3 linked regions of the Homo sapiens genome follow. The protein of the gene in region 2 interacts with the protein of the main gene of each other region in a pairwise test. Each region holds a gene or a part of one and is shown on either strand. Other genes may lie near its edges. The genes, in order: CLRN2, CLEC2D and PLLP.

Region 1 (11,458 bases), on a different chromosome or scaffold from region 2:
TTCCACCACCACAAACTGGAAGAGCTTCTCCTGAAAGTTGGCGATTCGTTCCGTCAGGTCGTGAAATTTCACCGCAGCCACGAAGCTGGCGATGGCTAACGCCACGACGCCGCCTGAAACTCAAAAAGGTCACCCTCATTCACGGCTCCTTTTTGCAACTCTGTAAGAGGTGGCATTTCTGTGCCACGTGTGACAAACTTGCTTTGGGTTAACAAAATTATGAGGAAGACATAAGTTTTAATTTGCTTTTAAAAGTAGGAGATAACCCACACAGTATGAAGGAGAAAGGCAGGATTGTGCGGGGAAAGAGAGGATCTGCTTTATCAGCTTTGAATTTCCACCCCTCCAATTATTTTTGTTTGTTTGTTTTGAGATGGAGTCTTGCTCTATTGCCCAGGCTGGAGTGCAGTGGCACCATCTCAGCTCACTGCAACCTCTGCCTCTCGGGTTCAAGCCATTCTCCTGCCTCAGCCTCCTGAGTAGCTGGGACTACAGGTGCCTGTCACCACAGCCGGCTAATTTTTGTATTTTTAGTAGAGATGGGGTTTCATCATGTTGCCCAGGCTGGTCTCGAACTCCTCACCTCAAGTGATCCATTCACCTTGGCCTCCCAAAGTGCTGGAAGTACAGGTGTGAGCCACCGCACCCGGCCCACTCTTCCAATTTTTCCCCTTACCCAGTACCATGCTTCCTAAGGATCCACGTTTGGAGAAGTTCATTGTCTAAAATATCCTAGGATTTCTATGAAGACCGTGAAGGCTATGTGGCAAGATGTAAGAAAAACTGTTGCTCTCCTGTTTAATTATCCTCCTTCCATGCTTAAGGATAAGGATGACCATTCATAGAAAAAGGAAAGGAGGGAGGGGAAAACTGGAAGAATTCCAAACTACTTCCCTATGTTTTGCTTGAAACTTTGACTTTCTGGGAGGAATCTGTCTCTCTCTCTCTCTCCCCCTCTCTTCCTCTGGTTTCAATTTTAATTAATATTTTTAATAACACATTTATGATGCTTCTTAAAAGATTAGTATATCTTCATCGAAGAAAAATTTGGACACCAGAGAAAATCATAAGCAAATTTACTTTTATCCTAAAAGCCAGCTTGAACCCTTTGAACATTTTAGTGTTTTTCTTTATGTTTCTTTCTCTTTAAGAAAATTAGTATTATGGTGTTCTTACTTTGATTTTAAATTTGATTTTTTTCCCCTCACTTGGACATTTTTACGTGTTGTTACATATTCTGTTACAGAATGACTTTATTGTCTGTTTTTATTTTTGTTTTTGAGACAGGGTCTTGCTCTGTCACCCAGGCTGGAGTGCAGTGGCATGATCACGGCTCACTGCAGCCTCGACCTCCTGGGTTCAAGCGATCCTCTTGCCTCAGCCTCCTGAGTAGCTGGGATCATGGGTGCATGCCACCATGCTTGGCTAATTTTTGATTTTTGTTGGTTTGTTTGTTTGTGGAGATGAGGTCTCACTATGTTGCCCAGGCTGGTCTTGAACTCCTGAGCTCAAGCAATCCTGCTGCCTCAGCATCCCCAAGTGCTGGGATTACAGGCGTGAGCCACCGTGCCAGGCTTACAGCATGACTATAAATGAGTGCATAGTATTTTATGCACTACACACTATAATTTATGTAAGTATTTTTAGTAGAGACTAAACAGTCTCTACTAAATTATAGAAATAAGGTCACACACTATAATTTATGTAAGTATGACCTTATTTCTGGATGTCTAGATTACTTCTAATTTTTTGATATTATAAAGTGCTACAGCAAATACCATTTTATGTACATCCTTGTTCTCTTGTCCAGTATTTCCTTAGCATAAATTCAAACATGGAATTGTTTAGTCAAAAGATATTCAAAGGCTATTCACCTTTTTCTGCCTTCTGACACTACAGTGTTGTTGTTTTTTTAAGCTCAGTGGCAAGAAATAAAGTTTTGTCAAAAGACATAAAGCTTTGCCTGTTTTTATTTTTTATTTTTTGAGACAAGGTTTCGCTCTGTTGGCTGAGGCTGGAGTGCAGTGGCATGATCACGGTTCACTGCAGCCTGGACCTCCCAGGCTCAAGCAATCCTCCCACCTCAGCCTCCCTAAGTGTTGGGATTATAGCTCTCAAGCAGCTGAGACTACAGGCACCGGACACCATGGACAGCTAATTTTTTTTTTTTTTTAGAAATGGGGTCTTGCTGTGTTGCCCAGGCTTTTTTGCCTGTTGCTAATACTCTCATCAGTAGAGTCTGAGAGTGCTATCTCTCTAAGGAAAGGAATGGACAGAGATAAATATTTATTTAATAAGCAGCGTTGAGCACTTTTTACATGACAGCCTCTGTGAGGATTCATGCAGATGAGGAAGACACCTGTAGTCTTGATGAGGGTAAGCCATGTATGTAAACAATTCTACAGGGTGGCTACCATCTGCAAACAAAGGCAAATACATAATAATTGATTGATTGATATACATTATAATACATAATAAAATAACATTACCTGTTTTTATATTATTCTTGTATAAGGTAATCATAGCGAGGGATTATTGTTCTAATGGTACCTTGAATATTTGACCTGAGTTTTCTGTGACAGCCCTCATTTCACAAGATTCTGTTATTTTCATTACAGATGATTTGTTAAGTGCATAATTAAATGTGAATTAATTTCTGTGCATCAATATACTCCCAAATCAACATGCGCGCGCACACACACACACACACACACACACACACACATCTTGTAGTTTTTGGCTTGGAAAACAGGTCATGATGGTCATAAATGAGAGCATGGATCTGTGGAAAAATAAAGAGCTTAGAATCAGTTACACCTAGGTTGGAATACCACCTCTGCCACTCATTGTGGTGCGACTGTTTAACTTCTCTGAGCCTCAGGCTCTTCATCTGTAATTGTGGGTCTAATAATACCTCCCATAGGGATGTGGTGAGATTTAAATGAAGCAATGCATGCAAAATCTCCAGGTCCCTGCCCAGCCCTTAGTGGTTGCTCAGTAAGTTGCATCTAGTTTAAGGGCATGGTGCAGTGAAGGTGTTGGGGAGGTGAGAGGAGGGAGAGTTGAGACAGCCAGTGAGCCACGTCTGCATTAATATGCCCAAGTGTGTGTGTGGGGGGAACACCAAAGACCTTGGCAACTAGATGGCACTCACTTCCCCTTCTCAACCCAGAGCCTGAATGGAGGAGCCTTTCACGAATGGCCTCTTGCTCACACTACCCTTCTCTTCTGTCATTTGTGGAGTTCCTCCCAGCCTTAGCTGCAGCACCAGCTCCATCTCTTTCCCATCTCAGGGCCCCCACCTCTCCCTACTTCCAGCTCTCTGTCTTCTGGCTTCTTCTTTCACCTCGATCTCTCTTCACTGCTCTAAGCCCTCAGCCATTCACGTACTCTAATAAGATGCTTCTTTGTTGTGACAGACTCTGCAACTTAAAGAGGAAATTCTTGAGCACTTTGGGAGGCTAAGACAGGTGGATCCCTTGAGCTTAGGAGTTTGAGACTAGCCTGGGCAACATGGTGAAACCTGTCTCTATAAAAAATACAAAAAATTAGCTGGGCATGGTGGTGCACGCCTGTACTCCCAGCTACTTGGGGGCCTGAGGTGGGAAGATCACTTGAGCCCAGGAGGTCAAGGCTGCAGTGAACTGAGATCGCACCACTGCACTTCAGTCTGGGTGACAAAGTGAGACCCTGTCTCAAAGAAAAAAAAAAAAAAAGAAAAAGAAAAAGAGGACATTCATTCCATGCCCATCAAGAAGGTCTTAGACCCAGGAAGGTCAAGGCTCCAGTGGGGCATTTTAGTTCCTTCACACCTTCTGCCCAACTACTTGGAGCCCAGCCCTATGATGGTGTGGACATAATTTTCTCTCCCTAAGGGACTTCTTACCTGCCAGGACATTCCATAGGCAGATGCCCCCAGGACCGCTGACTGCCCGGTACGGGACCTGGATCATGTTAAGAATGGCAAAGCCCATGCTGACCAGAGCCAGGGCCAAGGCCAGGAAGAGGAGCAGCAGAATCATCACATGAAGGCCTGCGTTGAGCTCCTTCACCAGGTGTGGGAAGACTGGGGAGACAAGACACAGCCACTATTTCAATGTCAGAGTTAGACTCACTTTCATGAAGTCCAAGCTTGCTTACCACGAAGGCTTCGACAGACAGGGGTGAGGGCAAGACAGCAAGCGTGGGGATTTCAAACAGCGGGAGACTTTCTGAGATGAACTCATGGCCCCCAGATTCATGCTTGTCAGTTGACCAACAAGCCTCTGTTCCTTAGAGTGGACACAAAATCAAAATATGCCCTGGCTGTCAATTTAAGTTGCATTGAGCTTGAAGCTCTGGGATCTGATGTGAACTGATGCACACAGGCCCCAGTGACTTAGCAAGGTAGACCCTGGCTTATCCCCATGTATGAAGGACACATAATTCTCACGTTGCACAACGTTTTATTAAAATATTAATTTGCCTTATGAGTATGGCAAAATAAGTTAGTGAAATCTTAATTCATATTTGTTTTCTCTATGTTTGCCAGCAGTACCAGCTGTGAAGATGAAATGACATAACATAATAGAGTAGCTCAAATAGTGCCTGGGAAAGTCAGTTCTCAAAAATGGCAGCTGTGGTTATTGCTGTTATATTTTGACAGTCTTGGGAAAGTCATGTGACTTCTCAAGCCTCAATTTCTTCATCAGTACAATGGGGATAGTAATCCCTGCATATGAATTGAGGATAATCAACATTTACTAAGTGCAGTCATGGGCCAAACATTTTACATCGTCATCTTGTTCAATGTGCATGACAAAGACATGAGGTAGATTTTATAAACTCCTTATACCCACAGGCTTGGAGACATTAATTGCTTGTGTTTGGGGAAGGCAACTCTTAATTCTATATAAGATTATAGTTCAATATACTATGAGAACAAATGTGACCCTGAAAGAGCCCGTCCTTCAAGATGGGTCCTGAGTGGTTAACTGGCTCTAAATTTAAAGTAGGGCCAAGTGGCCATTTACTGACTAGGGGGTCACACGCATCTTCTGAGTTCCTTGAAAACCCACACCTTTTTATCTTTGAGATCTGCCTCAGCCAATCAGGGCTCAGCTGTAATGACCAATCGGGGCTCAGCTGTACCAGCTAATCAGGGTTCAGCTGTATCCACCAATCAGAACTAAGTGAATTTGAATCCTTTATTTACCCAAACAGACCTGACTGGAAACCTGGGTGGGAACTTTTGCTATAAAATCTGAGCCTTCCCTTTCTTCTCTGGAATACACCTTCCTTTTACACCGGAGGCTGTGTTTCCCTGGTTTGCAAACCGTTAACTGGAATAAATTCTTTACTCCAAATTCCTTTTCTGAGAACTGTTGTTCACAACTGTATGGTATCAACAGTGTCAAGTCATGATCTTTAGTAGTTTTACATGAAGAATTGAACATTATGAAAGCTACAGAACTTCTGAGCATACTCATTCCTCTGCAATTGCTCCAAGGTTCCTGCTGAATACCCACCCTGATGGAACTAGTTCCTTTGCTGGTTCACCTGCCTCTCTTAGTCACTGAAGGTTGGCGTCTCCCAGTCCTGAGAACTAGAGTTTTTGTTTTTCCCGTTAGGTGTCCCGTTAGGTGACACATTTTCAGGCACTCCACGTTTACATTGTGCGTTCTGATGTTTCTTTCCAGTTCTGAATTTCCATTTATTTTTATCTCCCTATGGTTATCTAATCAGCATTGGAAACTTTACCCTGGAAGATGAGCTCCTTTCCAGTGAGTTTGTCTTTGTAAAGCGTCTTTCTTCCCTGTGCTTCTATCCCATCTTAATGTCCCTTAGATTTTTTTTTTCTCTTTTCAAACTCTCAGCCCCTTTTTGTTTCAGACACAGTAGCTTGTGCTGATATTTATTTATTTTTATTTTTAAAGACAGAATCTTGTTCTGTCACCCAGGCTGGAGTGCAGTGGCACCATCTCGGCTTGGTGCAACCTCCTTCTCTCTGATTCAAGCAATTCTCATGCCTCAGCCTTTCCAATAGCTGGGATTACAGGCACCCGCCTCCATGCCTGGCTAATTTTTGCATTTTTAGCAGGGACGGGGGTTTCACCATGTTGACCAGGCTGGTCTCAAACTCCTGGCCTCAAGTGATCTGCCCGTGCTGGGATTACAGGCATGAGCCACCAGACCCTGCCGCTTGTGCCTGATTTTTAAATTGTTTCATTATCCCCTTTCTTAACCAGGCAATCCTTAGGACACACGACTAACATAGTAATGCTTACCAAAACTCTTACAATAGAAAACAGTCACCTATGTGAATGGTAAAGATCAAAATGTTTGCTAAAACACCGTGTTGACAATGGTGTAAGGAAGAGGCACTCTCAAGTCTCATAGAAATATTAATTCATGTAACCTTGTTAGAGGGCAATTTGGCAACATCTACTAAAGCAAATTCACTTCTAGGAATTTATTTTCCAGAAGCACTCCCACATGTGCTCAAAGCGTGGATCAAATATTGGATATTCATTACAATAGCAAAAGATTGGAGAAAAAACAGTATGTGAATAGACTGATTTAATAAAGTATCCATAATGTCCATAATGTATATAATTCATCTTTTAAAAAGAAAGAATTATATCCACATAATGATTGAAACCATATCCAGATTTGATTTTTAAAAATTGAGAAATAATCATATTAGGATGACGGGGGAGAGGGAATTTGGGGAATGTGGAGTGATGTGGAGAGGGTGGTAAAGAGTGCCCAGTCCTCGGCCTTCATAGTAGGAAGTGCATTAACTATAATTAAAAAATACTTATTGGCAAAGGGCAAATCTCACTCAACCCCCACATTCTTGGGCCATAACACAGGGCTCAGGACCTCATGTTTAATAGAGATTTTATTATTTTTTAATATATGTCATTATTTAGAAATTCGAGGCTGGGGCAGTGGCTCATGCCTGTAATCCCAGCACTTCTGGGAGCCATTATGGGGGGATTGCTTGAGGCTAGGAGTTGGAGATAAGTCTGGGCAACATAGCAAGGCTCTGTCTCTAAATTAAATTATTTTTTAAAAAAGAAGAAAAAAGTAGAAATTCAAATCATTTCTCAGGAGTGTTAATGCACCAGTTCTTTCTACTTTCTCACTGAGAGGTGACTCTGCCTTAGCCTGACACCCAGTGCTGCCCTAGGAAAGCTGTTGCTCACTTGCCTTTCACATTTGAAATCCAGGTTCCAAGAGTTTTAGATGTCTCCCACTAGGAATTAAATTTAAGTTTCTAGCTTGAAATCCATGACCCTACACACGACTCATGGTGATAAATGACAACACGATTCATGGTGATAAATGACAACAGCCACCTATATGGGGTGCAGACTATGTGCCGGTGGCTTTATACATATTCTTTGTTCTGTTGCTCATGGACACCCTCTCTCATGCTTACAAATGAGGAAACTGAGGCTCGGAGAAGTGAAATAGCTTAGCTACGCTCCCACAGCAAGAAAAGTGTCAGCTTAACTACTCTATTACAGGGCTAGAGCAGAAAAATCAGAAAGCACAGATAAGTAGAGGTTTAAAATTCTAAACATAGAGTCTTTTGAATCCTGGAGGTCTCATTTTGAATTTGAATAGATATAGTTGTTTCCTACACATTAGAGGCAACTCACTTGAAAGCAGAATTGATTAATCATTCTATCAGCATCATTCTATCAGCATATGATGCATCTATCAGCATCTATCAGCATATGATGCATCTATCAGCATCTATCAGCATCTAAGATAATTTGTTTGCTCCGAATCCCAGAGAGGTCTGGCAGTCCTTTTCGCCCCAGCAGGGCAAATAAGAAAAGCAGGACATCTGAAGTCAAACCCAGGTCCTGGCCACTAGTGGAATACCTGTGAGGCAGGAAGTAGAGAGGAACCAGAGAACTAAAAGCTGCAAAGCAATCTATTACATTAGGTGCTTTTAAAGAAATTATTTTATGTATCGATTTCTCTGGTCTCTAATTTCCTCATCAGTAAAATGGGCGTAATAAAATCTCTTCTCTAGCATAGTAAAAATGGAAGGAAATGAACTACAAGGCAATGGCTTCAGATACTGTGTTCTGTGCCTAGTATATATTTATCTGCCTCTCCTTTATCAGATGGTAAATTTTTCTTTCTTTTTCCTTTCTCTTTTTTTTTTTTAGATGGATTTTCACTCTTTTCACCCAGGCTGGAGTGCAATGGCACAATCTTGGCTCACTGCAACCTCCACCTCCCAAGTTCAAGTGATTCTCCTGCCTCAGCCTCCTGAGTAGCTGGGATTACAGGCACCTGCCACCACGCCCGGCTAATTTTTGTATTTTTAGTAGAGACGTGGTTTCACCATGTTGGCCAGGCTGGTCTCAAACTCCTGATCTCAGGTGATCCACCTGCCTTGGCCTCCCAAAGTGCTGGGATTACAGGCGTGAGCCACTGTACCCGGCCAGATGTTAAGCTTTTCTAGGGCAAGTACTTGTCTGGTTTGTTCATCCCTGTTTTCTTAAGAGCCTGGTCTGTAAATACTCCATAGTACAATTGAATGTGTGGACAATGCTAAAGTAATGTTTGTCTTTTTCTTTCTCTAGCCACCCAAACAGCCATGTTGACTTGTTTTTATTTCATAGGGCCTGGGTATAAAAAAAGGACCTTAATCTTTGCGATGGATAGTTCTTTGGTTTTCTCCATGATTGGCGTGGGAATTTATTCCCCTGGGTGATTTTTTGGGGAGGCCTCTGTGATGAGAAAAGTGGCTGTTTGTGAACGAGACCCAATAAACCTCCCCATCCCAGAGTTTGCAAAGCATTTTCACTTACGTCCCCATCTACACTGATCTGCGACTGTGGGGATTATTTTTTTTTTTTTCTACAGATGGATAGTGAATGGCAGAAAGAGACCCCAGGAGAAACAGACTCCTGGTTGTGGGAGGCTCTGATATACCCCGTAGCTGCCTCGAGGTTACACTGTGCTAGAATTAAAAGCTGTAAATCTAAAGGAGACTAGACTGGCACTATCAGTGTCCCTGAGCTGTACTGGGGTAAAGCCAGCCAAGCACAGGAGGAACCTGGCCCCAGGCTCCTCGTGAATGCTTTGAAAGAGAATCACATCCAAGGTACTGCGAATGGATGTTTACAGACCCTCCTCTGAGACAACCCCAGGGCAGCAGGAAACAAAACCTTCTCAAATACGCTCCTACTCAGGGACAAGAATAAAATGTCCTTTATGCTTCTCACAGGGTTCTGATGCTTTCCAGACCAGACCACGTTAGATGAACCCAGGGGAATGTTTCCCATTGGTGTCCTTCTAAGAAGGAAGAAGGAGGAAGGCAAGAAGTACTTACTGAGTTCCTCCAAGGCTCAAACAAAATATGCATTTGTTTGCAGCTTCCTACTCGAAGCAGTTTACATTTCTGTGAGCTGGGAATGGCAGGGGTCTGGTCATTAGGTTAATGCTGGCATGTGACTGCTGTTTAATCTTCTCACCCCATTCAAGTTTCAACGATTTACCTGTTGGGGTTCAGAAACCAACACCCCTAAAATATGAAGCTTTGTGAAGAAGTCTCAAGGTCTCTCTGGCCTCCCCTCTCCCTCGTGTCTCTCCATTCTTTGTCTGTCTCATAAGCACAGGATGAGGTTGTTCTCTGACATTCCCTTACCTGCCTACATCCAGACCTACCAAAGAAAAAGACCTCTGGTCCCTTCCCTGAGTGTTCATTAATTGTACCCATATCACAGGAAGAAAGACTAAAGTCTGTTAACACAGCTGGACAGACTTTTGTCACAAACCAATGTCTGCTCTGTGGGCTCAACAGACTTTGTCCCAGCTCACTGTATGTTCTTTAAGCCCATTGAATTTCCCTAAAAATAATTTACTAGTCCCCTAAAATCATCCACACTTCCCCATCTCTCTTTCCCCTAAGATGAAGAGGATACAACCACCTGTACCCCATTGAGATAGCGGACAATCACTCTGTGATTTTTCCCCTATGCATGCTAATAAATGTGTAAGCCATTTTCCCTATTAATCTGCCTTTTGTCAGTAGATTGTTTAGAGAACCTTCAGAGTGCAAAGGGGAAGTTTTCTTGACCCCTAAAGTCCCGAAGACATCCTTTATAGCAAAGCATCTAGTTCAGAATCGAGTAGTCCATGTAGTTGTCATGGTTAGCTTTTAGCATTTCTTTTTTTTATTTGTTTATGTGTGTGTGTTTTCAAGTTTTATGTTATAATTTTGATGGAGCTATTTGTTCAATATCCAGGGTCTAATCTAATTGCTAGGTAAATATAAATATGCCCAGACATATTGATCTTGAATATACATAACAAATGTAAATTTTTGTGTGTTTAAATGATGACAATTTGTATTATATTTGTCAACGGTTCCAGCTTTTTGTCCTTATAAATTTAATACGACATTTACCTTGGCCAGATTTCTATAAACTACTACAATACTGAAATATAGAAATCAAGGAATGAATACAATTCTGTATCACCCTACATTGGCATGGTATTGATTAATTACGGTTTTGTGCAGACACTTTTCACCAGTGATCTCATCGATTCAAAAGGCTTGCAGAATATTGCCTGTTTTGTTTTTTCCTTTCCAGAAGCCCGTTCCTAAGTCCAGCTTGGATTCCTGTTTGTGCAGACTGCTCTGCTTACATCCTGGGCAGCTCTGATGCTACACTGAATGCCAGCCAAAGTCGGTGCCCGCTCACGTTCACAGAGAACAGGCAAGTGCCTTGCTTGAGGTCTCCCCACCAGTAAACTTTCCAGTAGGGGTTTCAGCCAGGGTAGTCTGATTCCAGAACCCAAGCACAGTGCCCCTTTGCATTTTCTCAGACTATGAAGCTTTTACAAAAGTAGATGTGGAAAGGGTCATCATGCTTCCCAAAGGTTCAGTTCTGCAGGCAGCCTCCACCCACTTGTTGTGGTCATGTGGCATGGGTCTGGAGTCCGGCTCTACTGTTTCCTGGCTGGGTGACCTCAGGTAAGTTATGTAACCTCTCCAAGCCTCAGTGTACTCCTCTGGAAAATGGGAACATTAACAATTCCTTCTGTATAACTTTGTTGTAAGGCTTTAAGGAGACAAGTGGCGTGAGGTGCTTACAATGTCTGACACGTGTAAACTCTCAATATTTTAATAGTCATAATTAATAGAGGTAAACTGCAAAAATGCACAAATCCTTATTTCTAATGTTTCTATACATCTCTACAGAAAAAGAAAAGGAAGCAAGGAAGGAAGGAAAGATCTTTTTGATGTGGATCCAGAACCCTTGGCTCACTGTGGACTTTGACATTATGCCTGACGTTGAGGCAGCAGCCAAATTCCACAATGAGACATAAGCACTCTTACACATTAACAAAAATGAGTGCCTAGAATCAGCTTTCATGCTCCCAATATACTCACTCGTGAATTGGGATTGGCGGCCCCCAAGCCCACACTGCCGCACTTTAC
Region 2 (11,458 bases):
TTGCTATTTTTCATGAAACAAGGTTGTTGTGGAGGTAAAATTAACCATGTTCCTAGATCGGACAAGAGACTATTTTTCAGTTTACTATTTTTTTTAATTTTTGCATCAATATTCTTAAGGAATAGTGGTCTGTCTTCTACCTTCTGAAGACTCTGATCATCTCACTAAACTTGGAATAATGTGAACCCTATTTACATAATTAAAATTTTTGGTGCCACTTAAAAAGTTATTGGAGTGTAACTCAGTTAGTGAGACAATATATTAAAAGCTGTAAAGAATAACAAAATTATTCAGATTCTTCCTCTTCTTTTTACAAGTATAATTCTCTCTAGATGAATAAAGATTACAGTTCACTTACCGCTTAAAGCAGCAACCATTCCACACACTATGATTGTCAGAAACATGATTAAGAAAAATAAGCGCCAAATTAAGGTAGCTTTAATAGAATGCTCTTTTGAATGCAGACAACCTGGAAAAAATTATTGAAAAACATTTTAACAATTAAATACAGACATAATACTGCCAGAAACATTAAGCATCAAAATGTTATTTTTATTTAATTCCTTCGCTTTTCACTAGAGGATGCAAATGACCTGTCATCTTATGAACTTACTATTCTATCTCCAGAATTTAATCATTTTCCAAAGTTAAAAGAATTGATTTTAACTTTCCAGCTACCATATTCAAGTTACCCTTTCAATTGGAGAGATTCATGTCAACTAAACCACAGGAATGAAATCAACAAAATCCAAGTAACTGGAAATTCAACATAGCAAATTATTCTGATTCCTGTCTAAAAATGTAAAGAAATATTTTTAAATGATATTAAGAGGAAATCTATCGATTAAAATAGACTTAAAAGGCATTGTTTTGGAGGAAAAAAGGCAAAACTGGAGTGATAAAGTGATTATTGTAGAGGTCAAATTAGTGTTATTCTTGGAAGGATAGGAGAGTGAATAGTTAAGAATACATGGAGGGCCTCTGAGCCACATAACAAGGATCTTTCTTAGACAATGTTAGCAGTTGTATTAGTCCATCCTCACTGCTATGAAGAACTGCCCAAGACTGGATAATTTAAAAAGGAAAGAAGTTTAACTGACTCACAATTCTACATGGCTGGGGAGGCCTCAGGAAACTTACAATAATGGTGGAAGAGGAAGCAAACGTGTTCTTCTTCACATGGCAGCAGGAGACAGAAGTGCCTAACAAAGGGGTAAAAGCCCCTTATAAAACCATCAGATATCATGAAAACTCACTCGCTATCACAAGAACAGCACGAGGGTAACCAACTCCATGATTCAGTTATCTCCCACTGGGTCCCTCCCATGACAAGTGGGGATTATGAGAACTACAATTCAAGATGAGATTTGGGTAAAGACACAGCTAGGCCATATCAGGAGTCAACAAAGGTGTTTATCTTATAATAATTAATCAAGCTACATATTTGTATTGTATAATTTCCTGTAGTTGTGTTATATTTCAAAATGTCTTAGGTTATCTAAAACCTCTTATGAAGTTCATTATTGGAACCCTGTTCTGACACAATCTCTTGCATACAATTCACACCTCTAGTTAATTTATCTAGGTTTGTCCTTAGCTAAATAGGCATATTTTTCTCCAACATTCCCCCCAACACTAGAGAGATCAGCAAGCTTTACATTGATGTTTCCCAAGATATTTGTCTTAATCAATAGATTTTAGTTTTTATCAGTTTAAGTTGACAGAAATACTGAATTAAAAATATAGAGTTCACATATGCCCCTGTACCCCCTTTATCAAAGATTTAAGAAATCATAAGAGAATCCAGAGGAAAATAAATTCTACATGTAGAGAAACAAAGATAAAAATGACATTTACATTCTTCTCAAAAACCATGCAAGCAAGAAGACAGTGGAAACAAATATTTAAAGTATTAAGAGAAAAAACCTTATCAACTTAGAATTCTTTAGCCAAAAAAATTCTTCAAAGTGAATGAGAAACAACCACTATTTTGGAGAAACATTGAGATAACTTGTTGCCAGTAGACTTGTCTTATATCAAAAAACAAAAAAGTTAAATGCAATTATTTTAAAAGGAAAGAGAATTATACAGGTTAGAAACCTAAATTATATGAAAAAGGAACAATATAAAAAATAAGTGAAGGTAAAATAAAACTATTTTTCTTATTCTTAATTGATCTAACAAATGGCAGTTTGTTCAAAATAACAATAGTAGCAATATATTTAATTATGTGTGCTTATGTATACATCTTTTATATATATTTATATGCTTATGTATTCTTACATGTAAATAAAATAAATAACAGAAATGACACATGGGATAAAAGCAGAGAATTAGATTTTTTTATTATAAGGTACTCACAGTACCTGTGAAATGGTATAGTATTATTTGAAAGCAAACTTATGTTAGTTGTGAGTGTATATTGCAAACACTAGGGTAACCACTAAAATCACATTTTTAAAGTATAATTGATATACTAAGAATGAGAAAATATGGAACTTTATAAATGCTAAGTTAAAAACTAAAAATGCAGGAAAAAAATGGAAGACATGGCTGGGTGTTGTAGCTTACACTTATAATCCCAACCCTTTGAGACACTGAGGCAGGAGGATCATTTGAGGCCAGAAGTTCAAGACCAGCCTGGGCAACGTAGCAAAGACTCTGTCGCTACAAAAATTAAATAAAAATTAGCCAGGCTTTGTGGCACATGCCCGTAATACCAGGTACTCAGGGCTCAGGTAGGAGAATCACTTGAGCCTAGGATTTCAAGGGTACAGGGAGCTATGATTATACCACCACACTCTAGCCTAATGAACAGAATGAGACTCAGTCTCTGAAAAGAAGAGAATGAAAAACAAAAATAGAAACAAAGAACAAAGGCAACAAATAGAAAACAGAAAGAAATATGGTAGATATTTAATCCACCTATATTAATAATCATTTTAATATCAATGATCTAAATGCACCAATTAAAAATCAGAGATTAAACTATATGATGTCTGCAGGAAATGCACTTTAAATATAAAGACACACAAATTAAAAGTAAATGGATCATGAATATATATATGTATTATATCATACTGGCACAAACAAAAGAAAGCAGGAGAAGCTATACAAATTTCAAACAGAACAAACCTCAAAGCAAGGAAATTTATCAGGAATGAAGAAAAGCATTGCATAATGGTATAAGAATTAGCTTTCCAAGAAACTATGTTATGTTTCCGCATAACAAACCTAAATGTGCACGCACCTAACAAGAGAGTATTTAACTACGTGAGGCAAAAATTAACAGAACTGCAAGGAGAAATCGATGAATTCATTATCATAGTTGGAGATTTCAACAACACTCTATTGGAAATGCACAGATCCAGCAGGGTATATTGGCTCATGACTGTAATCTCAGCACTTTGGGAGGCCCAAAAGGCTGGATTATTTGATCTCAGGAGTTCAAGACCAACCTGAGCAATGTGGTAAAATCTGTCTCTACAAAAAGACAAAAATGAGCCAAGTGTGGTGGTATTTGCCGGTATTCCCAGCTACTCAGGAGACTGAGGTGGGAGGATTGCTTGAACTCGGGAAGCAGTGGTTGAAATGAGATGAGATTGCATTACTGCACTCCAGTCTGGGTGACAGAGCGAGACTCTGTCTCAAAAACAACAAAATAAAAAAAAAAAAAAAAAAAAAGAAAGAAAGAAATGCCCAGATCCAGCAGGCAGAAAATCAGTAGAACTTAGGTGAACTCAGCAACATCATCAATTAACCGAATATAATTGACATCTATAGACTACTTTGTCAAACAACAGCAGAATACACACTCTCAAGATTACATGGAATAATCACCATAATAGACCACCTTCTGGGCCAAAACATATCCTAACAAATTTAACAAAATAGAAATCATACAGCGTCTGCTCTCAGACCACAATGTAAATAAACTAGAGTCAATAACAGAAAGAAAATTTTAAAATCCCACTAATCTCCACAAACATGTGGAGATTAAACAATACGTTTCTAAACAACATATGGGTCAAGGAAGAAATCACAATAGAAGTTTTAAAATACTTCAACTAAATGAAAATGAAAATACAGCTTAACAAAATTTGTGGGATGCAGTAAAAGCATTGTTTAAAGAGAAATTGATAGTATTGAATGCATCTATTAGAAAAAAATAAAGATCTAAAATTAATGATCTAAGTTTACACCTTAGGAAACTAGAAATAGAAGAGCAAATCAGGTACAAATTAAACAGAAGAAAAGAAATAATTAGAGCAGAAATAAAAAATGGGACACTGATAGAAAAAAGTTATCAAAACCAAAAACTAGGTTTGAAAGATTAAAAAAAAAAAAATGGATAAGGCTCTAGCCAGGCTAATTAAGAAGAAAAGAGGAAGGACACAAATTATCTATATCAGAAATAAATAAGGAGTTGTTACTACAGATCCCATGGATGCTAAAATGGACAGTTCTATGTCCACACAGAGGATCAATCACTTGAGAGACATAATTTGTCTAAACTCATACATGGAGAAATAGATGACCTAAATATGTTTACATTTATTACAGAAGTTGACCTTCCAAAACAGAAAGCACCATGTCAAGATGGACTCACTGGTGAATTCAACCAAATATTTAAGGAAAAAATTATACCAATTGTCTATAATTTGTTTTAGAAGTTAGAGCCGAGAGAATACTTCTTAACTCATTCTATGAGGCCAGCTTTATCCTAATAGGAAAATCAGATTAAGACATCACAAGAAAAGAAAACTATGGACCAATATACCTCATGAACATAGATGCAAAACCTTAACAAAACATCAGCAAATCCAATCCAATGATGTATAAAAAGAATTATATACTGTGATGAAGTTAAATTTATTTCAGCTATTTAAGGCAGGTTCAACATTCAAAAATCAATTAATGTTATCCATAACATTAACAAGCTAAAAAAAATCACTTGATTATATCAATATATACAAAAAAATTAACAAAATTCAACGCCCATTTGTGATAACTTTCAGTAAACAAAATTCAACACAGATTTGTGACAAAAACTCCCAGTAAACTAGAAATAGGGAAGAACTTCTTCACCTTAATAAAGAATATCTACAATAACCTACAGCTAACATCCTCAAGTATGGTGAGAAACTTGAAGTTTTCCCACTAAGATCAAGGACAAGGCAAAGATGTCCCTCTCGCCAATACTTTACAACATTGTTCTGGAAGTACCAGATAATGCAGTAAGACAAGAAAAGGAAATAAAGGAAATAAAAGGTATACAGATGAGAAAGTAAGAAATAAAACTGTATTTCTCTGCAGATGACATAATCATCTATGTAGAAAATCCAAAATAATTGACAATTTTGGGAACTGACATGCAAGGTTACTGATATGTAAGGTTGCAGAATGCATGGCTAATACACAAAAGTCAATCACTTTTCTATATGCCAGAAATAAACAAATGGACTTTTAATTGAGAACACAGTGCCATATACATTATCATTCAAAAAATAAAATACTTAGGTATAAATCTAACAAAATATATACAAAATCTATATGTGGAAAACTACAAACTGATGAATGAAATCAATGAAGAACTAAATAAATGGAGAAGTATTTTATGTTCATGGAGAGAAAGACTCAACATTGCCAAGATATCAATTCTTCCCAGCTTAATCTACAGATTAAATGCAATGATAATAATAATCTCAGCAAGTTATTGTATAAATATCAACAAACTGATTCTAAAGTTTATATAGATAGGCAAAAGACCCAGAAAAGCAAACACATTATTGAAGGAGATGAGCAAAGTTAAACAACTGATACTACCTGACTTCATGATTTACTCTAAAACTACAGTAATCAAGACAGTGTGGTATTTGTTAAAGAACAGACAAATAAGGCTGGGCGCGGTGGCTCACGCCTGTAATCCTAGCACTTTGGGAGGCCAAGGCAGGTGGATCATGAGGTCAGGAGATCTATACCATCCTGGCTAACACGGTGAAACCCCGTCTCTACTAAAAATACAAAAATTAGCCGGGCGTGGTGGCAGGTGTCTGTAGTCCCAGCTACTCAGGAGGCTGAGGCAGGAGAATGGTGGGTGAACCCAGGAGGCGGAGCTTGCAGTGAGCCGAGATTGCGCCACTGCACTCCGGCCTGGGCAAGAGAGTGAGACTCCGTCTCTTAAAAAAAAAAAAAAAAAAGGAATAGACAAATAAATTAATGAAAAAGGATAGAAAGCAGAGTAGCAGACTAAAAAGAAATAGACCCAGATAAATATAGTCAACTGATCTTTCATAAACAAGCAAAGCAATACAATTAAGAAAAGACAGTCTTTTCAACTAACGATGCTGAATAACTAGACACCCACATACAAATAAATGAATCTAGGCCCAGATTTTACATTTTTCCCCAAAATGACTCAAAATGTATCATAGTCCTAAAGGTAAAACACAAAACTGTAAAACTCGTAGAAGATAATATAAGAGAAAGCCTAGATAACTTTGGGTATGGTGATGACTTTTTAAATATAATACCAAAGGCACAATCCATGAAAGAAAGAACTGATAAACTGGACTTCATTAAAACTAAAAACTTTCAACCTGCAAAAGACATAATCAAAATAATGAAAAGACAAATTATTAATATCATATGTCTTTTGAGAATTGCAAGTTAAAATAATGAGATATCATTACATATTACTTAAGTGTTACATTAAAACATTAACAATATCAAATACTAGCAAGGATGTGGAGCAACCAGAAGTCTCATGCATTACTGGTAAGAAAGCGAAATGCTACAGCCACTTTGGCAGTTTCTTACAAAAGAAAACATACTTGAAGGGAGGGGCCAAAATGGCCAAACAGAAACAGCTCTGGTCTGAAGCTCCCAGTGAGATGAATGCGGAAGGCAGGTGAATTCTGCATCTCCATCTGAGGTACCAAGTTCATCTCATTGGGCAGCTGGTGCAACCCACAGGAAGCAGGAAGAAAGCAGGTGGGGTGTCATTTCACCCAGGAGCTGCACAGGGTGGGGAGACTTGCCTCCCTGAGGTAAGGGAAGTGGCGAGGGTCTGTCCTACCCACCAGGTGTACTATGCTTCTCCCACAGATTTTTGCAATCTGCAGATCAGAAGATTCCCTCATGAGCCTACACCACCAGGGCCCTGGGTCTCAAGCACAAACCTGGGCAAACCAATGACAGCCACTCCCATTGGTGGCTGTTTAGGCAGGCACTGAGCTGCAGGAGTTTTTACATACTCCAGTGGTGCCTGGAACTCCAGTGAGGCACGAGAACCATCCAGTCCCATGGAAAGGGGGCTGAAGCCAAGGAGGAGAGCCCAGCAGTCTCAATCAGTAGGTTCTACTCCCATGGATCCCTGCAAGCTAAGACCCACTGGCTTGAGATCCCTGCTGCCAGCAGAGTAGTCTGGAGTGTGCCTGGAATGACTAAGTTCCTGGGGGGAGGGGTGACCACCATTAGTTGGCGGTTTGCCCCTGACAGTGCAAAGGAGCCTGAGAGGTTTGGACTGGGCCAGATTTCCCACAGTGCAGCAAACTGGCTGTGGCAGGTTGTGGCCAGACTGCCTCTTTAGGTGGGACCCTGAGCCATCCCTCCTCACCAGGCAGGTCATCCCTGCAAGAATTCCAGCAGCTCTGGTCAGGGGCTTACAGACAGAACTCTCATCTCGCTGAGTCAGAGAACCTGAGGGGAGAGGCAGTTTCAGGTTCAGCAGACTTATCTTTTCTGCCTGCTGGCTCTGAAGAGACCAGATGAACCCGATGAGTGGGATTCCCCCAGCACAGCACACCAGCTCTGCTAAGGGAATGTCAGATTCTCTACATAAGCGGGTCCTTGATCCCATGCCTCCTGACTGGGTGAGACTTCCCAACAAGGGTCACCAGACACCTCATACAGAAGAGTTCCGGCTGGCATCAGGCCAGTGCCCCTCTGGGGCAAAACTTCTGAAGGAAGAAGCAGGCAGCAATCTGCTGTTCTGCAGCCTCCACTGGTGATACCCACGTGAACAGGGTCTGGAGTGGATCCCCAGCAAACTGCAGCAGACTTGCCTCAGAAAGGCTGACTGTTAGAAGATAAACAAACAAACAGAAAGTAACAACAACAACATCTACAAAAAAGACTCCACAAAAACCCCATTCAAAGGTCATCAGTCTCAAAGATCAAAGGTGGATAAATCCACGAAGATGAGGAAAAAACAATGAAAAAACGGTGAAAATTCCAAAAGCCAGAGTGCCTCTTCTCCTCCAAATGATCGCAACAGTTCTCCTGTGAGGGCACAGAACAAGGCTGAAGCTGAGATGGATAAACTGACAGAAGTAGGCTTCAGAAAGTTGGTAATAACGAATTTCGCTGAGCTAAAGCATTATGTTCTAACCCAATGCAAAGAAGCTAAGAAGCATGATAAAAGATTACAGGAGCTGTTAACCAGAATAACCAGTTCAGAGAGGAACATAAATGACCTGATGGAGCTGAAAAACACAGCACGAGAACATCATGTTGCAAACACAAGTATCAATAGCTGAATTGACCAAGCAGAAGAGAAAATATCAGAGCTTGAAGACTCTCTTGCTGAAATAAGGCAGACAGACAAGATTAGAGAAAAAAGAATGAAAAGAAATGAACAAAACTTCCAAGAACTATGGGACTATGTAAAAAGACCGAACCTACCACTGACTGGAGTACCTGAAAGAGACAGGGAGGATGGAACCAAGTTGGAAAACACACTTCAGGATATAATCCAGGAGAACTTCCCCAACCTAGCAAGACAGGCCAATATTCAAATTCAGGAAATCCAGAGAACCCCAATAAGATACTTCATGAGTAGATCAACCCCAAGACACATACTCCAAGGTCGAAATGGAAGAAAAAATATTAAGGGCAGCCAGGGAGAAAGGTCAGGTCACTGACAAAGGGAAGTCCATCAGATTATGAATTTTGAGTGCTACAATATGCCAATGTAGGTTATTAATTGTAATAAATGTACTGCTGGTGAAGAATGTTGATGTTAGAGACTGCTATGGTTTGAATGTGTCTCCAAAGTTCATGTGTTAGATACTTAATCCCCAATGCAATAGTGTTGAGAGGCAGGTCCTTTAAGAGGTAATCAGGTCATAATGTCCTTATAATGGGAGTGGGTTTACTATCACGAAAGTGGATTTGTTATAAAAGCAAGTTTGGTGCCTCTTGCTCTCTCTCTTTCTTATGCATGTGCTCTCTTGCCCTTCCAAATTTTGCCATGGGATGATGGAGCAAGATGTGTTTCTCAGTCTTGAACTTTCCAGCCTCCAGAACTATGAGCCAATAGATTTTGTTCATTATAAATTACCCAGTCTTGGGTATTCTGTAATAGCAGCACAAAACAGACTAAGACAGAGTCTATATATGTGTGGCAACAAGGAGAAAATGAAAAAAAAAACTACCTTTCTCACAATTTTGCTGTGATCCCAAAATGGCTCTAAAAATATGGTCTTTAAACAAAACAAAAAAGAGCAAAAGGAAAAAGGATATACTAGCAGCAGATCTTACAAGAATATCCAAATTTAAAGAGCCATCAAACCAGTGGTGAATTTAAATTTCCCTCCTCTAGTATCACTGCCCCGAACTTAATACAGCCAGAAACATGGAATTGAGCCTCTGTCAGCATAAAGAGAGGGCTCCAGGAGAAGCACTAGAGGTATGGTCTGAGGAACAGAAAAGCAAACTCCTATCTCAAATAGAGTGTGAAAATACCACGTTTATTTTTTCTCCCCCTCTTGTCTACATTCTCATGTGCCTCAAACCTCAGGCAATCTGATGATGGTAGGGGAAACTACAGCAACATGCAATAGCCAAAACCTTGAGAAAGGTTAATCCTCGGCCGGGCGCGGTGGCTCACGCCTGTAATCCCAGCAGTTTGGGAGGCCGAGGCGGGCGGATCACAAAGTCAGGAGATCGAGACCATCCTGGCTAACACGGTGAAACCCCGTCTCTACTAAAAATACAAAAAAGTAGCCGGGCGTGGTGGCGGGCGCCTGTAGTCCCAGCTACTCAGGAGGCTGAGGCAGAATGGCGTGAACCCAGGAGGCGGGGCTTGCAGTGAGCCGAGATCGCGCCACTGCACTCCAGCCTGGGGGACAGAGTGAGACTCCACCTCAAAAAAAGAAAAGAAATCTAAAGTCAATCCTTTCCATTCAGTTGAGCTGTAGCTCCATGAGAGTGGGGCCAAACCTCTTGCTTTTTTTTTCTTCTTTCTCACTGTCCGTCTGCCACATGAGCTTAAAGATGCAGCTATAATTGCAGAAGTATATGGTTCATCAGAATAAAAGGAGGCCCGCATTTCTAGCTGGAGGATGGAAAGGAGAAGCCCCTGGGAACCTGAAAGTACGGGTCAGATGGTGAAGAGGAAGAAACTTTAGAAAGAGACCCATGAACATTATTCATAAACTCCTGGATTCACCTGCCCCTCAACTTATGCATGCCTAGATATGGTTCTAATTGGCACACTAAAGATGCTAAGACCTGAACTAATGAGTAGAGCATTGCACAGTTCCCAATTTCACCCCTGGTTGATGCACATGTCTGAATAGCACTACAAAGGCTTTCAGAATGGAACTGACATTGGAACCAGATCCCACAGATTGTCTTCATCTCACCAGGGTGATTGCTTGCTAAAACAATAGTATCAATATACTCCAAAATTTAAATAAGATCCAGTCTAACTAAATATTTGTTCAAAATGTTCAAATTACAATCCAAAATTACACAGTATATGAAGAACCACGAAAATGTCAACTTCCATGGGGAAAGAAAACACAAGCCAAGGAGGACATGACAGAGATGTTGGAACTATCCGACAAACAGTTTAAAGCATTTGGTATAAAATGCTCAAAATACCCAATGAATGAAGAAATAAATGAAGTCATTTAACAACATTTAGAGTTCATCTTTTTCTGCCTCTGAATTACCTTTTCTCCAAATTGATTACCTTTTAAGTTGGGAGGAGAAAACTCCAAACTTTTAAGTCCTAAGTTATAAAACCTTGATATTCCCTAACTGTGGCAAAAGTCATTTTTTTCACTTACTAAAGCATCATATAAAGCTATATATATATATATTTCCAGTGCATCCAATGTAACATAATTCCATTAGAATGCCCTACTAAGTTTCTACTCAACCTTTGTTACTTTTTTGATTTGTAAATGTCCTTTACATACTATTTTCTACCTTTTCTCTCTTAAGAGCTTCCATGATAGGTTTTCTACCTATGTAATAATGATGGTATCTTGTATCTGAGTAACACTTTAGAGTTTGTATAGATTTTTTTTTAGTGAAATTAACTGTTATTTTCAATCCTAAACTTAACCTTATCTCATTGTCTTACATCTTTCTCTCATTGTTCCCTCTCCTTAGTTGTTAGAACTGGGAATATAAATATATGCATGTTTTACACAAATTATAAGCC
Region 3 (6,128 bases), on a different chromosome or scaffold from region 2:
AGAAGGCGGAGATTGCAGTGAGCCAAGATTGCGCCATTGCACTCCAGCCTGGGCACTAGAGCAAGACTCGGTCTCCAAAAAATAAAAATAAAAAATAACAAAAGGGTACAGAGGGTACCTAGAAATGCTTTTACCTTATTGTTCAGAGAACGTTGTTCTGTGGTGTTGGAAAAATAAGCTCAGGAGTACTCAGCTGCTTTCCTCTGCTGTCTCTACCAGCTCTGAGCAGGCAGCATGGCCAGCCACCTTGATTATATGACCTCCAAGCTTCACAGACTTTCAAGGTAGATGATATTGTTGAAATCTTTGATTCAGTAAGCTCACCTAACCTGCCCAAAGCAAGGGTGACTAAGTTATTGTCAAACTGAGTCACTTGTGAGAATAAAAGGCCGTGCTATTCTATTTATGCCAGCACAAACAGCATAAACCAGGACTGTTCCAGACCCAGCAAGCAGGAAGTATAGGCAGCCTTCCTCCGGTCAAAGAGTTCGCAGGTGGTGCTGAACGACTCCAGAACGTGAACTGCCCTACAGCAGGCATCTTCTACAGTCAAGCTGAGGTCTCCTGGAGGTTACAAGCACCTGTAAAAGTGATTTGCCAACATCTTGTCCAAATAATTTCTCTCATCTTTATTTTTATTAAAAAAAATAAAACAGTCACCACCAACCACATGACAACTCGCCAGGCAAGGCCTTGCTTCCCTCCCTCCTTTGCGTCCCATGTGCCTAGTCAGCAAGGTCGGGGAGGCACCGATGTTAGCTTCGCCCAAAGGGAGTATTACAGAGAGAGGCTTGGGAAAGGGAAGGAAACCTGGACAGGCTTTTCAGCACTGAGAAATCACTTAAAACTGATTTGCTTTCAGTAACTGGTATGTCTGAAATGCAGGGAGGGAAGACCATGCTGTCAGCAATCAACCCACTTTTTACAGGTTGGCTCCAGGGAGAGGTTGGTTGAAACGGTGTTTAAAGGAAGGAGAGTGGTTTCACCAGCTTGCTCAGCTCTCCTGGAACAAAGACTAAGGTGCTACGTGTTGCTTGTTAGGCTTATACTACGGCGGGTCTGGGGCTGCAGGTCTGGAGTCCTTGTTAGTGCATTTAGTGCTGGTGAGAAGGGTGGGCCCCAGTCTTGGACGCTGAAGTCCTCTAAAGACAAGGCAGAGACACAGCCTCAGATCCCCCGTCATCTTCCACTGAATAAGGGGGATGGAGAAGAGGTCTCAGCAGTTGGCCTCCTGCAAGCCGAGATGCCTGCCAGCCTGGGCCTGCTTCCTTAGCGCTGTGAGAGCTTATGTCTGACGGGCAGAGAGGAGCAAATGCAGTCCCTGTTGGGCTGACTCCACGCAGGGCTCCCCAGCTTCAGGCTTGCAGGGTGACCCTGCTCTGTGACCCAGCGGCGGCTTCAGCCCCAGAGGGGGCCGTGGCACAGGTGGTTTAGGCATAGCCGCCAGCCATCTGACTGGTGGCCGCATTGCTGCCTACTCCTCGCCAGGCCTGGTAGCTGAAGAAGGCACTCACTCCATAGGCGATCATCACCAAACACGCAAAGAACTGAAAGAGAGGTGAGAAGGGCTTAAGGACCGAGAGGGTGACAGTGACACAAGCTCCAACCAGATCTCAGGCCAGGCAGGAGGGGTTGTGGCAGCCGCACCATCTCACACTTAGCCAGATGCATTTCACAGCTGTTTATCATGGGGCTGATGAGCACCAGGGTCCTGGGATACCAACATTACCTTCTAACCATGGGAAACAGCTAAGAACCACAGGCAGGGCCTGTCAGATTGTGATAAGGGCAATGAAGGAGAAGATAAGAGTGACAGAGGGGACACCTAGCAAGGATTTAGTTCTAAAAAGACAACATTCAAAGGACACCCTAGGAATCTCCTAGAACCAGTTCAAGCCTCTATACTAACACCTGCAGCCACATTCAGAAGCTCCCCGTCTCTGTCCCCATCACTGAATTTGCTGATTTCAAAACTGCCCTCATCAGGAAGAGTAAGGAACCAAATGCGTGCCCATTGAGGCCCTGCCCTCCCCTGGGCTTGGCCGTGGCTCCAGGCCTGGCGTCCAACTTCTCTGAGCAGGAGCCTCCTGTCTGTCAAAAGGAACTGGTAGTCCCTTCCTCTCCCTCACTGTGGGTGTCGCAGGATCCTGGGAGGAGATGGTGTGCAGGGCCTGGTGGTGTGAAGGGTGACAGGCGTGGAGGGGACTACTGCCACTTCACTGGCCACCTGACGTGGGCCCAGAGTTTGGGTTTCATGGGAGAGCCTATGAATCTCCCAGAATGGTTTAAACCAAAAGGTTTTTGCACGTGCACTTGTCAGTGGGAGAGCATGTTTTTCACATTCTCCAAGGGGGCACGTGACCCTAAGGCAGTGTGGCACAGCTGATTTACAACAAGGTTCAATAGTCAGCCCAGGCCGCGTGTGGCAGCTCACACCTGTAATCTCAGCACTTTAACAGGCCAAGGCGAGTGGATCACCTGAGGTCAGGAGTTCAAAAGACCAGCCTGGCCAACATGGTGAAACTCCGTCTCTACTAAAAATACAAAAATTAGCCAGGCGTGAGACTCCATCTCCAAAAAAAATACAAAATACAAAAAAATTAGCGGGTGTGGCAGCACACACCTCTAGTCCCAGCTACTTGGGAGGCTGAGTCAGGAGAATCACTTAAACCCAAGAGGCAGAGGTTGCAGTGAGCTGAGATCACGTCACCGCACTCCAGCCTGGGCAACAGAGCAAGATTCCATCTCAAAAAAAAGAAAAAATAGTTAACCCAAAACTTCCATTGCCCACCACACACCACTCTCCACTGTTAATTATGGAAGCCTGGAGGCGGCCCGGCTCCCCTCTAAGACCCACTGAGTGTTCAGGTGACAACCCCTCAGGAGGTGGCAGGTGCCTGGCCTCAGACCAAGCGAGCAGCCTGAGTCCTGGGGCTGAGACCCTGCAGACCACCAAGGGAGCCTGGGAAGCAGACTCACCGAGGCAGCCGCGCGCTGGTTATAAGGCCGGGTGCCCCTCAGGGATGTCAGGTCAACTGCCGCAGAGCAGGCGATGAAGGCGGTGATGTAGAGAACGGTGGCGCTGATGTTAAAGATCATTAACTGCAGGACATGGGGGTAGGGAGTGGGGAGAGAAAAGGCTTAAGACACAAAGAGAGGCCAGACACGGTGGTTCACACCTGTAATCCCAGCACTTTGCGGGGCTGAAGTGGAAGGATCGCTTGAGCCCAGGAGTTAGAGACCAGCCTGGGGAACATAGGTAGGCCCCATCTCTACAAAAATAAAAAAGTTAGCCAGGCATGGTGGCGCATGCCTGTGATCTCAGCTACTTGGGAGGCTGAGATGGGAAGATCACCTGGAGCCGGGAGGTTGAGGCTGCAGTGAGTCATGATCACACCACTGCACTCCAGCCTGGGTGACACAGTGAGATCCTGTCTCAAAAAAAAAAAAAAAAAAAAAAAAAAAGACAAGACCAACGGTTGGGGCTTCTTGGTTCCCACTGGCACACTCCTTGAATAGCCATTGGATGGTGATGCAAACACCTGGGTCTTTCCCACCAACAGGGCCTCAAGAGGCCACAGTTTCCAGGGAGTCAGCCCATGAGGCCCTGGTCCCCAGGAGGCCTGCTGAGCAGGGAGCATGAACACACCTGAGGCTGGAGGAGGGGAATGACAGGAGGGCCTCAGTGATGGGGTAGTGGCAGTGCCAGACCCATTCCTCACAGAAAGAGCCCAATCCATGACCCATCTCTTTGTACCAGCTAAAGAAACACAGGCTACTCCTCCAAGTGTGGTCCAGGGCCAAGCCCAGGCCATCCCTGGTACCACTGCAAGGTTTGGCTCTGTGGCCAGTCCTGGGCTGGGCCTCACATCCCTCTCTGCCTTCAGGGGGAAGAATTTTTGTCTCCCTCTTGGCCACATCCTAAGCTCAAGGCTCTAAGCAAATGCCAGGGTCAGGACCAAGAGGACCAGATATTTCAAGCTGGATATGGAACCAGACTGGCAGGAAGGGGCCCTCTGCTGACAACCAGGGACCAGTCCCTCATCCCAAACGCTTGGCCCCAGGAGCCCATTCACCGTCTTCAAACGCCTGGTCCTCAAACATTCATTCAGTTCGTCCAATATACTTTTAAAAAATTACCAACATTATAAAATTAGATTTCATGAAAACCTGAAGACTTCATGTAAAAATTTTATATTAAAAAAATCTTGGCCGGGTGCAGTGTGGCTCATGCCTGTAATCCCAGCACTTTGGGATGCCGAGGCAGGCAGATCACTTGAGGTCAGAAGTTAGAGACCAGCCTGGCCAACATGGTGAAACCTCGTCTCCAATAAAAATACAAAAATTAGCCAAGAGTGATGGTGCCCACCGGTAATCCCAGCTACACAGGAGGCTGAGGCGGAAGAATCACTTGAACCTGGGAGGCAGGGGTTGCAATGAGCTAAGATCGTGCCACTGCACTCCAGCCTGGGCAACAGAGCGGGACTTTGTCTAAAAAAAAAAAAAAAAAAACTTAGGATATCAAAAGATTTCGCTCCAAAGGGGCTGCATTCCCACTAGGAACAGATGAAGTGAGTATAGAGGCAGCTTGCGATGGGCAGATGGATGCTGGCTTCTCCAGGGTCCCTCCTGACCCAATTTACTCACATATCTTGCCTGGATCCTGTAGGGGTCTGTAGCCCCCATGCCAGAAAATCCCAAATTGGCCATGCTAATCCAGCCTTCTCTAGATGCAGTTAAGCCCTCTCTGCCCCATTCGTTGAGGGTCCAGAAGCACAAGAAGCAATGTCCTGCCACTGTGGCAGAAGGGAGCCTCCTTCCATTAACAGCCACGGCTGGAGCCCCAAATCTGCACCTAAGAGACACACAGGCTTTTATCTCTGGAGATTTCTCTCTTAGAGGTCCCTGGGACGTGAGGGAGGGGGTGGACCCTGAGCCCGGAAGTCAAGGCACCGCCTCCTCGCCCCAAAATCTTCCCTGCAAGCCCAGCGACCCCTGCAAACGCTGCCTGTTTCTGCCAGGGATGTCGAGATCTAACAAACCCATTCTGTCTTGAGGATGACTCACGTTTCCTCGGTTTAAAAAGTCATTGAATTCCAAACAATGCCGCCTAGTCCCAGCCTTGCTTGTCTTACAATCATGTGCCTTTCTCGCCTCTCTTCTCACTGAAAGCCTCAGACCCCAGCTGCAGGGGTTTTCCGGGTCAGAGGAAAAAAAAAACCAGCAGCTTTCTGTGTGTCTGGCCGGGGTACTTCCCATGTCCGCTCTCAGCCCTGTGTCCTGGGGAGACTGTCCTGGGGCAAACCTGGGGAGCCCAGCCTCTCCCAGGCCTCAGGGCCTCACCTGCAGGCAGCCAGGTGCCCGAGCTTGTCCTGCACACTTGAGGCCCTGGCCTGGGCAACTTCTGACAGCTTGCCACAGCCTCCAGCCACAGGGCTGCCTACCTGGGCCAAGCTACAATCTCACAAACTCACACAACACAGGCACAAATTCTGACCACCCCCAGAGGGAAATTTTTTTTTTGAGGTGGAGTCTTGCTCTGTCACCCAGGCTGGAGTATAATGGTGTGATCTCGGCTCACTGCAATCTCCGCCTCCTGGGTTCAAGCAATTCTCCTGTCTCAGCCTCCCAAGTAGCTGGGACTAGAGGCGCGCGCCACCACACCTGGCTAATTGTTGTATTTTGCTAATTGTTGTATTTTTTGTAGAGACAGGGTTTCACCATATTGGTCAGGCTGGTCTCAAACTCCTGACCTCAGGTGATCCACTCACCTCAGCCTCCCAAAGTGCTGGGATTACAGGCGTGAGCCACCACACCCGGCCGGGAAAAATATTTTTAAGATTCCAAATGGCCTCTTACAAATCCACTCAACAGCCCCTCACTTCTACTCCCCTCCTGGGACAAAGTCAAGCCTGTGTCCTTCCTGGCTCATGGTTCCCCAAAAAACCGTGCACCTAGGCATGGTGGCTCACTCCTGTACTCCCAGAATTTTGGGAGGCCAAAGTGAGAGAACTGCTTGAGCCCAGGAGTTCAAGACCAGCCTGGGAAATAAAGTGAGACTCCTCTTCTACAAAAAATAAAAATAAAAATTAGCAGGGCATGGTGGCACGTGCCTGTAGTCCTAGCTA

Evidence for each region.
Region 1: the proteins of CLEC2D (region 2) and CLRN2 interact in binary tests that used the Homo sapiens proteins (3 or more experiments, as listed by UniProt).
Region 3: the proteins of CLEC2D (region 2) and PLLP interact in binary tests that used the Homo sapiens proteins (3 or more experiments, as listed by UniProt).

Annotation. Positions count from the first base shown.
Region 1 is NC_000004.12:17,515,472-17,526,929, reverse strand, and holds part of CLRN2 (clarin-2), read right to left. Parts: coding exon 11,411-11,458; intron 4,067-11,410; coding exon 3,887-4,066; intron 114-3,886; coding exon 1-113. UniProt on the Homo sapiens protein: Plays a key role to hearing function. Required for normal organization and maintenance of the stereocilia bundle and for mechano-electrical transduction.
Region 2 is NC_000012.12:9,669,934-9,681,391, reverse strand, and holds part of CLEC2D (C-type lectin domain family 2 member D), read right to left. Parts: intron 470-11,458; coding exon 359-469; intron 1-358. UniProt on the Homo sapiens protein: Receptor for KLRB1 that protects target cells against natural killer cell-mediated lysis. Inhibits osteoclast formation. Inhibits bone resorption. Modulates the release of interferon-gamma. Binds high molecular weight sulfated glycosaminoglycans.
Region 3 is NC_000016.10:57,255,483-57,261,610, forward strand, and holds the end of PLLP (plasmolipin), read right to left. Parts: intron 3,103-6,128; coding exon 2,980-3,102; intron 1,548-2,979; coding exon 1,431-1,547; 3' UTR 615-1,430; downstream 1-614. UniProt on the Homo sapiens protein: Main component of the myelin sheath that plays an important role in myelin membrane biogenesis and myelination. Plays an essential function in apical endocytosis. Regulates epithelial development through the regulation of apical endocytosis.